Homo sapiens: one gene and its partner. The protein of the gene in region 1 binds, or shares a complex with, the protein of each later gene. Each region holds a gene or a part of one and is shown on either strand. Other genes may lie near its edges. A codon is read from its position in the direction of its gene.

Region 1 (6,235 bases):
ACCACTGTCCTTCCGGAATGCATGCTCCACAGGCAGCCAGAGGGAGCCGCAAACATGGCGTGTTGGATTTCCATGCTGGTCCCTGGGGAGCGGAGAGCCACAGGCCTCTTCCCCTCCCTCTCCCTCTCCCTCCCTCCCTCTCTCCCCCTACCCTGTCTCTCTCTCTCCCCCCCCACTCTCTCTCCCTCCCTCTCTCCCCCCACCCTGTCTTTCTCTCTCCCTCCCCACCTCCCCCTCTCTCTCCCTCCCCCTCCTCCCCCTCCCTCTCCCCCCACCTTTTCTCTCTCCCTCCCCACCTCCCCCTCCCTCTCCCTCCCCCCTCACCTCCCCTCCCTTTCCCTCCCTCTCTCCCTCTCTCCTCCCCTCCCCCTCCCTCTCCCTCCCTCTCTCCCTCTCTCCTCCCCGCCTCCCCATCCCTCTCCCTCTCCCTCCTCTCTCTCTCCCCCTACCCTGTTTTCTCTCTCCCTCCCCGCCTCCCCCTCCCTCTCCCCCATACCCTATCTTTCTCTCTCCCTCCCTGCCACCCCCTCCCTCTCCCTCTCCCTCTCCCTCTCCCTCTCCCTCCCTCTCTCCCCACACCCTGTCTTTCTTTCTCCCTCCCCACCTCCCCTCTTCTCCCACCCCGGGGTCTGCGTGGAGGCCACTGCTCCGTCCCTGCTGAGGATTCTGCTGCACTCTGGCTCCTGCCTGTGGGAATCCGTCCTGTCTCTCTGGCTGGTGTCTCTCTGGCTGGCGTCCCTGCCCAGATGCCGCAGCTTGATGGGGATGCTCTTTCATTCCTTTATGCTGCTTGGGACAGGTGCGCTCCCAGAAGGGATCCTGTCGCCAGTTCTGGGGGAGCCCAGCCATGCTCTCCCCCTGCCCACCCCACAGAGCCCTCTCTGGACCTTGTGCCAGCACCCTGCTCCAGTGAATCTTTCAACCCTCTTCCCATTCACCAATTCTCTCTTCAGTGCTGTCCACACTGGAGTTGGTTCTGACCACTTTTGTAGTGTTTTTTTCCACTTAAATGATTGTATTTTTTACATCCAGGATTTGTAATTTTTAAAAATAGATGCCTGTTCATTTTACTCCTTAGACAGAAGCCAAATGTATTTCCTAACATTTTATCCATGCTGTCTCTGTGGATCCTGCACATATTTAAACATAGCCTAAGCGTACCTGTTTGCTCGTTATTTTTATCTCCCTGAGATGGATCCATGGGTCCACTGGCCCTGTTGATTTTCTGAGTCGTATTTCTTAGTGTGTTTGGGCCATGCGAGCTTGGGGATGTTGATTTCTAGGTTTGTTGGGGACAGAGGGCTTTCTCTTTGTGCTGTCAGCCTTGTGTTCTGGGCTCCCCCGTCCCCAGCTCTCCTTTCCTTGTCTACCAGATTTCAGTGGCCTTGGCCCAGCCCCACAGCCCCCAGCCAGGACTGTGGCCTTTCCTGGCAGCTGCTGGGGTCGTCCTGTGCTCTGAGGTGCCTCCAGGGTCAGGGCCGGTCAGCTGAGCAGCCCCAGGGCTCCAGACGGCACATGCTGAGGTCACCACAGCCGGCTCCACCCCTGCTCAGGCCGAGGTCCCCCAGGGAGGGGCTTGTCCCTGGTCTGGATCCTAGGGGACACTTTGATTCTCTGCTGGCCACCCCCAGAGTCACACAGCTCCAGGGTCAACCCAAACATCCGGACTTCCTCCGCCCCACTCGTCAGGGGAGGCATTGATCTTCTTTTTGAGACAGGGTCTTGCTCAGTCACCCAGGCTGGCGTGCAGTGGTGTAATCACAGCTCACTGCAGCCTCAACCTCCTGGGCTCAAATGATCCTCCTGACTCAGCCTCCTCAGTGGCTGGGACTACAGGCGCCCGCCACCACACTTGGCTAATTTTTGTATTTTTTGTAGAGACGGGGGTCTCACCATGTTGCCCAGGCTGGTCTTGAACTCCTGTCCTCAGGTGATCCACCCGCCTCGGCCTCCCACAGTGCTGGGATGACAGGCTTGAGCCACTGCACCCAGCCGGAGTATCATTTTTATGAATGATTTCAAACATGCAGAAAAATACAAAAACAATATACGAGGTACACACGTGCCCATGGCCTTGGACCCACAGACGTCACCATTCCCAGCCCACCCTTCTCCATGGACACCCCTCCCTCCCCTCCCCCAAGTCTCCCCTGTTCTCTCTCTGGGCCACAGTGGGGGGTTCCAGGGCCTGGGAGGGGGCTCAAAGCTCCGATGGGACTGGGCAGTGTCAGGTGGCTGCAGCCCCCATACGCTATGCCTCTGACCCGCCCACACCCCCCACCGCGGCTTCTCCTCCGGGCTGCAGGGTGTGCAGCCCCCGCCCGCAGTCCCCCCTCCTTCGCCCTGTGTGACTCCTGGGGCTCCGTGTGACCACTCTGTGTGGTTTGTGTGTTTGCTTCTCTGCAGCCGCCCCGTGGGGAGGGTGGTGTCTCTCTGGCCCTGTGCTGTGCCCCCGCCTGGGTTTACAGATGTCTGTCATTGCTGTGGGGGTGACGGTCCCTGCGCTGGCCTGGAGAGAGGTTCGGGGCCAACGGGCAGCGGGCACCCCGGTGAAAGTCCCTCGAGGCTGCGGTGGCGACACCACGTCCAGCCACTTCTCAGGTCGTCCTAGCCAGGTGCCATTCATCCCAGGCGGACAGGGGGCCGACCACCGGCCCCATCTCTCTCCACTGCCACCTCTCCCTGTGTGTCCCGGGAGGGGCCGCCCGCTGGGCCTCGGCTCCTTACCTGGTAGACGAGGGCAGCAGCACTGCAGGGCAGGCTCTGAGGGGCTTCAGGGAGACGCAGGTGCTGGCCTCAGACTCCAGGATGCTGCGGCCAGGCCAGGCGCCATCTGGGTGCAGGGGCGGCCACAGGGCAGCTGTCGCCATATCGACAGCAGCCGTCCGTCTGGGCTCCCGGGGCCACCTGCCCGCCGCTCCTTCCTCTCCTGGCTTATTTTCCAAACAATTTGCTTAACGTGATTCCCGGCCAAGCTAAACATGACTAATCGTGTTTACCCGGTGATCCCGCGCCTCCTGGCAGGCGGGGCTGGGGCCCAGGAGGAAGGAATGCCTGCATGTGCTGGTTCAGGGACTCACCACCCTGGCGTCCTCCCTTCTTCTCTTGCAGAGCCTGACGCACCCCAGGGCTGCCGCCATGGAGCCCCTGTTCCCAGCCTCCACGCCCAGCTGGAACGCCTCCTCCCCGGGGGCTGCCTCTGGAGGCGGTGACAACAGGACGCTGGTGGGGCCGGCGCCCTCGGCAGGGGCCCGGGCGGTGCTGGTGCCCGTGCTGTACCTGCTGGTGTGTGCGGCCGGGCTGGGCGGGAACACGCTGGTCATCTACGTGGTGCTGCGCTTCGCCAAGATGAAGACCGTCACCAACATCTACATTCTCAACCTGGCAGTGGCCGACGTCCTGTACATGCTGGGGCTGCCTTTCCTGGCCACGCAGAACGCCGCGTCCTTCTGGCCCTTCGGCCCCGTCCTGTGCCGCCTGGTCATGACGCTGGACGGCGTCAACCAGTTCACCAGTGTCTTCTGCCTGACAGTCATGAGCGTGGACCGCTACCTGGCAGTGGTGCACCCGCTGAGCTCGGCCCGCTGGCGCCGCCCGCGTGTGGCCAAGCTGGCGAGCGCCGCGGCCTGGGTCCTGTCTCTGTGCATGTCGCTGCCGCTCCTGGTGTTCGCGGACGTGCAGGAGGGCGGTACCTGCAACGCCAGCTGGCCGGAGCCCGTGGGGCTGTGGGGCGCCGTCTTCATCATCTACACGGCCGTGCTGGGCTTCTTCGCGCCGCTGCTGGTCATCTGCCTGTGCTACCTGCTCATCGTGGTGAAGGTGAGGGCGGCGGGCGTGCGCGTGGGCTGCGTGCGGCGGCGCTCGGAGCGGAAGGTGACGCGCATGGTGTTGGTGGTGGTGCTGGTGTTTGCGGGATGTTGGCTGCCCTTCTTCACCGTCAACATCGTCAACCTGGCCGTGGCGCTGCCCCAGGAGCCCGCCTCCGCCGGCCTCTACTTCTTCGTGGTCATCCTCTCCTACGCCAACAGCTGTGCCAACCCCGTCCTCTACGGCTTCCTCTCTGACAACTTCCGCCAGAGCTTCCAGAAGGTTCTGTGCCTCCGCAAGGGCTCTGGTGCCAAGGACGCTGACGCCACGGAGCCGCGTCCAGACAGGATCCGGCAGCAGCAGGAGGCCACGCCACCCGCGCACCGCGCCGCAGCCAACGGGCTTATGCAGACCAGCAAGCTGTGAGAGTGCAGGCGGGGGGTGGGCGGCCCCGTGTCACCCCCAGGAGCGGAGGTTGCACTGCGGTGACCCCCACCCATGACCTGCCAGTCAGGATGCTCCCCGGCGGTGGTGTGAGGACAGAGCTGGCTGAAGCCAGGCTGGGGTAGACACAGGGCAGTAGGTTCCCCACCGTGACCGACCATCCCCTCTAACCGTCTGCCACACAGCGGGGGCTCCCGGGAGGTAGGGGAGGTGGCCAGACCGGTGGGGGGCTCCGCCATGCCGTGCAAGTGCTCAGGGCCGCCTCACCCTCCATCTGGCCCCAGCCCATGCCGGCCTTCCCTCTGGGGAGCGACTTTTCCAGAAGGCCGGCCAGGCGAGAGGGTCTTCCTGACGGCGGAGCTGACCTGCCCGGCCCACCAGCTGCATGTCAGCTCCGAGCCACCGGGTCCCCGTCCAAGGCTGCTCTGCTAAGTTAAAGACACCCGAAAGCGCTTGACTCAGGTCCCCGGAGTCCCTGGCCAGGGCCCCAGCCCCTCGCTTGCCCTGCACTGTGTGGACTCTGGGGATGCAGGTGTAAGGGGAGTGTGGCTGGGCAGCCCCTGGTCAGCCAGGGTCACGCCTGTCCTGGGGGCCCCACCCTGCTGCCCGACACCCCCCATGGGAGGCTGCGGGCGGCAGTTGCTGTCTCAGAGAGGGGAGTGTGGGGGCTTGGGCGCTGGCCTAGCCAGGGGCGAGGTGGGGAGGCGGCTGGTGCAGAGGAGAGCTGGGGGCTGAGGTTGGGGTGAAGGCTGCAGCCCTCCAGGCTGCTGGGGGTGCAGATGGCTGTGCCGTGCTGAGATTGGCTCTGTCTGGAGGGGTCCAGTGTGGGGTGCCTGAGGGCACTAGGGAGAGGTGCTCCTGCTGCAGGAGGACCTGAGGGTCAGGGCTTGGAGAGGACAGGGAACCTGCGGCCGTCTCTTCTGCTTTGGGGCAGGGGCTCTGGCCCGGGAGAGGGAACGGGGACAGGAGCAGAGGACGGTCATCCAGGCGCAGCGGGGAGCTGCTCCCCAGGCCACAGCAGACAGCACTGCTGAGAGGCAGCGGCCGCGCGGGTGACGCAAATGGCAGGCCCTGGGAATCCCGCCGCCTCCCACCTAGAATTGTCCTACCTCCCCCACCCCAAACACCAGCTTTTCCTGGCGCCCCAGGCCCAGAACGTGGGCCCAGAGAGCCTTGCTGGGGTCTCTGGGGCACCTTGGCCTTGCTCTGAGGCTGGAAGGAGAAGGACCAGGGTGCGGCATCACTCGGCCTCAGGGACCCCTCTGCCCTGCCCAGCACTGGCCCCGACCCGTGCTCCCGCCGTCTGCCCAGAGCAGGACCTCAACCTCCTGGAGGGCACAGGGAGCGGCTGAGTGGGCACAAATCCTGGCAGGAGAAAGGCCCAGGCTGAGGCCAGGCCTGGGAAACATCCAAGCAGTGAGGACACGCGTGTTTGACAACTGCTCCCCTGAATAAATGCGAGGATAAATGTTTGATTCTTTCCCCGAGCAAATATTGTCCCTGGAGCCGAGTGCAGCCAGCGCAGAGTGAGCGGAGCCTGGGCTCCCCCGAGGCCCGACACAGGGCCCGCCCCCGGCCCCAGCCCCGCTGAGCCAGACAAGGCCGGGACGGGGGCGGCCAAATGCCCAGCAGGAAGCGGGAGGCGTGGAATTCGTGAACAGGGTGAAAAATGATGGAAGCTGCCTGGGGTCTTAGGCTGGAGCTGCCCCTCACAGCTTCTTGACAGCTCTGGGCGGGGCAGGGTGGGCTTCTGCAGGGGGTCCACAAATCTCTGCCTCTTGAGTCACCAAAGAGGGGTGCATCCAGGGTGCACTGGGGGAAACCGAGGCCCGTTCACACCGCAGCACCCCCCTCGACCTGCCTCCCCAGGGATTTGGGTGCCATGTTCACCCTCTCAGAAGGCTTTGGGGACCGAGCAGATGGCTCGGAAATCCCTGCCAAGATCAATTTCTCCAATTGATTTGACACCGGGCGCTCTCCCTGC
Region 2 (7,477 bases), on another chromosome or scaffold:
CTAGTACGTTCAGCCAAAGGCCCGTATGTTAGCAGTTTCATTTTTGGATAAGCACTCTTTAAACTCCTTATTGGCCAGGTGCAGTGGCTTGTGTCTGTAGTCCCAGCAACTTGGAAGGCTGAGGCAGGAGATTCACTTGAGTCTGGGAGTTTGAGACCAGCCTGGGCAGCACAGTGAGACCCCATCTCTAAAAAAAGTAAAAAATAAGTTAGGCATGGTGATGCATGCCTGTAGACCCAGTTAGCTACTCAGGAGGCTGAGGCAGACGGTTGCTTGATCCCAGGAGTTCAAGGCTTTAGTGAGGTGACTGTGCTACTGCACTGCAGCCTGGGTGACAGAACAAGACCCCGACTCTAAAAAATAAAATAAATTCGGGAGGCTGAGGCAGGAGAATCGCTTGAACCCAGGAGGCAGAGGCTGCAGTGAGCCGAGATTGTGCCACTGCACTCCAGCCTGGGTGACAGAGTGAGACTAAGTCTCAAAATAAAATAAAATAAAGTAGAATAAAATAGATAAAATAAATAAATAATAAAACTCATCAAGAAGAGTTTAGGGAATAGATACTATAGACTTTCCAAAGGTTGAAAGATCTGGGTTTGCTTCTTGGGTTTGCAACCCTAGTAGCTGTATAACTTTCAGAGACTTTGTGCTTTTTTTTTTTCATTGAGACAGCGTCTCACTCTGTCACCCAGACTAGAGTGCAGTGGCACAATCATGACTCACTACAGCCTCCACCTCCCAGGCTAAAGTGATCCTCCTGCCTCAGCCTCCTGAGTAGCTGGGACTACAGGCATGCGCTACCATGCCTGCCTAATTTTTTAGTTTTTTTTGTGGAGATAGGGTCTCAGAATGTTGCCCAGGCTGGTCTCAAGCTCCTGAGCTGGACTCAAGTGATCCTCCTGCCTCAACCTCCCAAAGTGCTGAGATTATAGGCATGAGTCACTGCACCTGGCCTTTTCTTTTTTCTTTTCTTTTTCGAGATGGGCTCTTGCTGTGTACAGTGGTATATCACAGCTCACTGCAGCCATGAATTCCTGGGCTCAAGCAATCCTCCTGCCTCAGCCTCCCAAGTACCCAAGACTGCAGGTGTGTGTTACCACACCTGGCTAAGTTTTCTTTTCTTTTTGAGACAAGGTCTCACTTTGTCGCCCATGCTGGAGTACAGGGGCTCAATCTTGACTCACTGCAGCCTCTACCTCCCAAGCTCAGGTGATCCTCCTGCCTCAGCCCCCCAAGTAGCTGGGGCCACAGGTGTGTGCCACCATGTCCAGCTAGTTTTTTTTTTTGTTTTTTTTTTTGGTAGAGGTGAGGTTTTGCATGTTGCCCAGGCTAGTCTTGAACTCCTGGGCTCAAGTGATCCTCCTGCCTCAGCCTCCCAAAGTGCTGGGATTATAGGCATGAGTCACTGCACCCGGCCTTTTTTTTTTTTTTTTTTTTTTTGAGATGGGCTCTTGCTATGTCAGCCAGGCTGCAGTACAGTGGCATGATCACAGCTCACTGCAGCCACGAATTCCTGGGTTCAAGCAATCCTCCTGCCTCAGCTTCCCAAGTGCCCGAGACTGTAGGTGTGTGTTGCCACACCTGGCTAAATTTTTTCTTTTTTTTTTTTGTCATAAAGTCTCACTTTGTCACCCATGCTGTAGTGCAGTGGCACAATCTTGGCTCACTGCAGCCTTGACCTCCCATGCTCAGGTGATCCTCCTACCTCAGCCCCCTAAGTAGCTGAGACCACAGGTATGTGCCTCCACGTCCAGCTAATTTCTGTAGAGATGGAGTTTTGCCATGTTGCCCAGGCTGGTCTTGAATTCCTGGGCTCAAGCGAATCTCTCGCCTCAGCCTCCCAAGTAGTCAGGACTGCAGGTGTGCATTGCCATGCCTGGCTAAATTTTTGTTTTTTTTTGGTAGAGATGGGGTCTTGCTATGTTGCCCAGTCTGGTCTTGAACTCCTGGGCTTAAGTGATCCTCTTGTCTCCACCTCCTAAAGTTTGTCACCTTCTTGAAACAGTCATTATCAGTTCTCATGAAGCCTTCCCCAATTTGCAGCACATTCCCCTTTGCACACTTCTTCTCGCACTGAAAAATGTCCTTGTCTTTCATTTGTGTCTATGTATCCGATTTCTTTGAGGCTGCAACACCTCTGTCAGGGTGTGGGTGGTGTGGGTCCCTTGTGGTATTGCAAGTTCCATACTGGGTGCTCAGAATGTTTAATGAGCTCATTGAATAAAATTGGCACACTAGACTAACGATATAGGAAGCTGGTGAGGCCGGGTGTGGTGGTCTCATGCCTGTAATCCCAGCACTTTGGGAGGCTGAGATGGGTGGATCACTTGAGTTCAGAAGTTTGAGACCAGCCTGGCCAACATGGTGAAATCTCTACTAAAAATACAAAAATTAGCTGGGCGTGGTGGCTCCTGCCTGTAATCCCAGCTACTTGGGAGGCTGAGACAGGAGAATCCCTTGAACCTGGGAGGCAGAGGTTGCAGTGAGCTGAAGTTGTGCCACTGCACTCCAGCCTGGGTGACAGAGCAAGACTCCGTCTCAAAAACAAAAAGAAGCTGGCTGAACTGCTGTGAATGTCTCATCTGCAAATATAACTCAAAATTTTTAGTGTCATTTGTGGGAATTATTTTGGTACAGAAATAAAAGATGGGCCAGGTGCGGTGGCTCATGCCTATAATCCCAGCACTTTGGGAGGCCGAGGCGGGCGGATCACGAGGTCAGGAGATCGAGACCATCCTGGCTAACACAGTGAAACCCCATCTCTACTAAAAATACAAAAAAATCAGCCGGGCGTGGTGGTGGGCACCTGTAGTCCCAGCTACTCAGGAGGCTGAGGCAGGAGAATGGTGTGAACCTGGGAGGCGGAGTTTGCAGTGAGCTGAGATCGAGCCACTGCACTCCAGTCTGGGCAACAGAGTGACTCCATCTCAAACAAAAAAAAACAAAAAACAAAATAAATAAAAGATGAAGCAACATACGATGTATAAGCCTCTGGCCAGCAGGCCATGCTGATCTTACCTAGGATTTTAACATAAGCAAAAAGACTGTGACAAATTCAAGATTGAGATTTCCCTGCTGAAGGTGTAAACCAGGACTTTGGAAAACTGAAAACAAACATGTTCACTTCTAGAAAGTGCCGGCAGTTTTGGGTTGCGTTACCTCAATTTATAGCCTTGCCTTGGATGCTGGTCATCTGTAGCAGGTTTGGGTGGATGTTTCAGATTTTACTCGGTGTCTCGTTGGGCAAAGGGGTCTGTGCATTTGTCTGTGTGATTCAGCAATGAGGGCCTGTGAGGAAGAACCAGCAGGTGGCACAGAGAGGGACTCCATGGTCTGCACTCTCAGCAGTGGTGCCAGCCTCAGGAGGAGAGAGAGCCCTGGGAGCTGGCCAAGGGCAGGGCCGGGCACTGCTTCCCAAACTGACTGTGCCCTGCAGTAACAGCACATCTCACACCTGACACACACAATGCGAATCATTATTTATCCTTACTACGGGTGATGCACACTAATTTTAATTTCATTCGAAAGGAAAGTACTGGCCTATGACCCACAAGTGGGTGGTCAGGAGCAGTTTAGAAAACACTGGACCAGGCCGGGCGCGGTGGCTCACGCTTGTAATCCCAGCACTTTGGGAGGCCAAGGCGGGCAGATCATGAGGTCAGGAAATTGAGACCAGCCTGGCTAACATGGTGAAACTCTGTCTCTACTAAAAATACAGAAAATTAGCTGGGCATGGTGGCCAGCGCCTGTAGTCCCAGGTACTTGGAGGCTGAGGCAGGAGAATTGCTTGAACCCGGGAGATGGAGATTGCAGTGAGCCAAGATCATGCCACTGTACTCCAGCGTGGGTGACAGAGCGAGACTCCATCCAAAAACAAAAAGAAAACACTGGTCCAGGCTGGGGGCAGTGGCTCACACCTGTAATTCCAGCACTTTGGGAGGCCGAGGTGGGTGGATCACCTGAGGTCGGGAGTTCGAGACCAGCATGACCAACATGGAGAATCTCCGTCTCTACTAAAAATACAAAATTAGCCAGGCGTGGTGGCACATGCCCGTAATCCCAGCTACTCGAGAGGCTGAGGCAGGAGAATCACTTGAACCCGGGAGCCAGAGGTTGCGGTGAGCCGAGATCACACCATTGCACTCCAGCCTGGGCAACAAGAGCGAGACTCCATCTCAAAAAAAGAAAACACTGGACCATCAAGAGTTCGAGACCAGCCTGGCCAACGTGGTGAAACCCTGTCCCTACAAAAAATACAAAAATTAGCCAGGCATGGTGGCGGGTGCCTGTAATCCCAGCTACTCGGGAGGCTGAGGCAGGAGAATCACTTGAACCCAGGAGGCGGAGGTTGCAGTGAGTTGAGCGCGCCATTGCACCCCAGCCTGGGTGGGCCAGAGCCCGGCTGCCCCAGGGCCAGCAGTGCCTGGGTGCTTGTTGGAAATGCAGCTCTCAACTCCTCCCTGCCCCAGTGCATCAGGACCTGCCTGCAAAGTGATCCGTCTGCACTTCAGTTTGAGAAGGCCTGGCCTAGAGGACAGTGGGTCTGGCATGCTGGGCTGAGAGGCAGTACTGGGAGCGATTCTTGGGGCCTCCTTGCCGACAATTGGGTGAAACCAGCGGATACGATCGTAGCGTCTCTGAGCCCCCATTGCCTCCTTGTTTCTCTGCCCATAGTAGAAGAATGTCTCTGAAATTACTGGATGAGTTTCAGTCATACTTTCACATGGGCACAATTTCACATTCAAGCTCCTTATCCTAGGCTAATTTTATATTATGTTAAATCACTTGTTTTTGTTCTCACGGCTTCCTGCCTGCTATAGGCATAATTACGAGGAAGCAGAACTTCTCCAGAAGCAAGCGCACATGCGTTCCAAAATAAGAGCAAATTCGCTCTAAACACAGGAAAAGACCTGAAGCTTTAATTAAGGGGTTACATCCAACCCCAGAGCGCTTTTGTGGGCACTGATTGCTCCAGCTTCTGCGTCACTGCGCGAGGGAAGAGGGAAGAGGATCCAGGCGTTAGACATGTATAGACACAAAAACAGCTGGAGATTGGGCTTAAAATACCCACCAAGCTCCAAAGAAGAGACCCAAGTCCCCAAAACATTGATTTCAGGGCTGCCAGGAAGGAAGAGCAGCAGCAGGGTGGGAGAGAAGCTCCAGTCAGCCCACAAGATGCCATTGTCCCCCGGCCTCCTGCTGCTGCTGCTCTCCGGGGCCACGGCCACCGCTGCCCTGCCCCTGGAGGGTGGCCCCACCGGCCGAGACAGCGAGGTGAGTACAGTCCCGACGTGGCCACACGCTAGCCCACTCTCTGTCTCTTGTTGGCTTTTTGGCCTGCATGGTGTGTGTGTGTGCACGTGTGTTGCACTTCACAGCTTGGACAGGACACACGGCTCAACTTTGTAGTGTTCTTGGCTGGCCCGAGGTACTGGGATGCCGCATTCAGACCACTGATCCTCAGTTACATGTCCCAACCCATGAAGCCTGCTGGAAACCTGTGCAGCTCAAGGAGGGCCCTCCGTCGGGTGTCTGGGAAAGGGGAAGCGAGTGTACCCGTCCACTGCAGGGCAGGCATGGAGCTGCGACAGCCCTTCCAGAGCCTTCAGTTATACATAGCACAGGCTCCCACTGGCTCAGAGTAATTGGCATCATTACATTTTCCGTTGTGAGAATTTGTAACTTCGTGAGGTGATTGATTGTTCTTTTTTCCATTTTGAGAAAGTTCCAAGAAAGGGTATATAAAGTTGAGCATTAAAAATGGATTTTTCTCTAAAATTACCAGATGAGTTTCAGGCAGGCCATTTATCAGCAGATTACTCCCAGAAGCTTTCTAAGGAATTTGAAAAACCAGAATATAACGTTTGTTTCAGTCCCATCGTCTCAGAAAGCAACTTGTGAACATCCAGGAGTGTGGCCAAAGGTGGGAGAATGAGTAAATTAGCCTGATCCAACTCCGGGCTTCTCAGCTGCCAGTCACTGAGGGGAAAATGGCAGATTTCCCGACCTCTCCTAATTAAGGACCTTAGCAGAGTATGGAGCAAAACCAGGTTTCTTCCCTTGACTTAAAATGACCAACTTTTCTCTAATTAAAGCAATTTCTTTAAGGTATTCTCTTCACTTTCTCATCCTCATCCGTTAAATGGAAATGAGGCTTATCGCTATGGAGCATCTTTTCATTTTAATATTTTCTTTCTCTTTTCTCCAGGGTAGTCTTTTAGATCATTTTTTTTTTTAAGTAAGGAGGAGATTGCATATCTTTGAATGCTTGCTGCCTGAGCCAGATTGCTGAGTTTTCTTTCCTTTGCCATCTGCTTCTCTTTAAAAGCATATGCAGGAAGCGGCAGGAATAAGGAAAAGCAGCCTCCTGACTTTCCTCGCTTGGTGGTTTGAGTGGACCTCCCAGGCCAGTGCCGGGCCCCTCATAGGAGAGGAAGCCCGGGAGGTGGCCAGGCGGCAGGAAGGCGCACCCCCCCAGCAATCTGCGCGCCGGGACAGAATGCCCTGCAGGAACTTCTTCTGGAAGACCTTCTCCTCCTGCAAATAAAACCTCACCCATGAATGCTCACGCAAGTGTAATGACAGACCTGAATAAAATGTATTAAGCAGCAGTGATCTTTCCTCTCCTCCTTCCCAAGTCATTTGAAAAGTGTTTGTTATTTAAATTCCAATAATGCCCAATACTGACGTGTCTTGAGTAATTTGGAACCCAAAGTGAAGATCTTTGATAAAGATTTTTTTGTGGTTCGACTGGACTGTGCTGAGTGCGGGCACTGGGCTTTTCTTCTGATGTTCATTATGGTGCTGGGAAGCTCTGTCTTTGATTTAAAATAAAATAGCTAAAGGCTACACAATTAAGAGTTCAGAATAACATCTTATTTCAGTTTATGAATTGATATGAATTGTCTAATTTAAAAAATATTTCCCTCACATTAAAAGCAAATTTTTAATATCAGGCTCGAAGAGCAAAATGATTATTCCTCATGTTTTAGCTGAAATTAATTTTAAAACATATTAAACAGAAAACCTGCTGACATGCCTGTGAAACTGATACTCGAACTTGCTGTTATGTACCAGTTTTAATTAGTAGCTTAATGGGTTGCAATTCTTTTCATGGATTATAGCTTCAGATTTGCTTTGGGAGGAATGAAGGCTACCCACAGAATTTTTTTTTTTTTGAGACGGAGTCTAGCTGTCACCCAGGCTGGAGTGCTATGGCGCGGTCTCAGCTCACTGCAACTTCCGCCTCCCAGGTTCATGTGATTCTCCTGCCTCAGCCTCCTGAGTAGCTGGGACTACAGCATGCGCTTCCATGCCTGGCTAATTTTTTTTTTTTTTTTTTTAGATGGAGTTTCGCTTTTGTTGCCCAGGCTGGAGTGCTATGGCACGGTCTCAGCTCACTGTGGCTTCCGCCTCCGAGGTTCAAGTGACTCTCCTGCCTCAGCCTCCCAAGTAGCTGGGACTACAGGCACACACC

Evidence for each region.
Region 2: the proteins of SSTR5 (region 1) and CORT are in contact, whole or in part, in a cryo-EM structure (PDB 8X8L), measured with the Homo sapiens proteins. Residues at the interface, in NP_001044.1 of Homo sapiens: Tyr89, Leu96, Gln99, Asn100, Ser103, Asp119, Gln123, Glu182, Thr185, Cys186, Asn187, Ala188, Trp190, Gly198, Phe201, Ile202, Thr205, Phe264, Phe265, Asn268, Asn271, Glu279, Ala283, Tyr286, Phe287, Val290, Tyr294; in NP_001293.3 of Homo sapiens: Cys93 (codon at 6,506), Arg94 (codon at 6,509), Phe96 (codon at 6,515), Phe97 (codon at 6,518), Trp98 (codon at 6,521), Lys99 (codon at 6,524), Thr100 (codon at 6,527), Phe101 (codon at 6,530), Ser102 (codon at 6,533), Ser103 (codon at 6,536).

What each region holds. Positions count from the first base shown.
Region 1 is NC_000016.10:1,075,731-1,081,965, forward strand, and holds the end of SSTR5 (somatostatin receptor type 5), read left to right. Parts: intron 1-1,893; exon of another isoform or gene 1,894-1,982; intron 1,983-2,727; exon of another isoform or gene 2,728-3,001; intron 3,002-3,095; exon of another isoform or gene 3,096-3,111; 5' UTR 3,112-3,138; coding exon 3,139-4,233; 3' UTR 4,234-5,724; downstream 5,725-6,235.
Region 2 is NC_000001.11:10,445,049-10,452,525, forward strand, and holds CORT (cortistatin preproprotein), read left to right. Parts: upstream 1-4,982; 5' UTR 4,983-5,175; coding exon 5,176-5,274; intron 5,275-6,328; coding exon 6,329-6,547; 3' UTR 6,548-6,950; downstream 6,951-7,477. Other genes in the region: CENPS-CORT (APITD1-CORT protein), read left to right, coding at 6,329-6,547. UniProt on the Homo sapiens protein: Binds to all human somatostatin receptor (SSTR) subtypes. It also inhibits cAMP production induced by forskolin through SSTRs.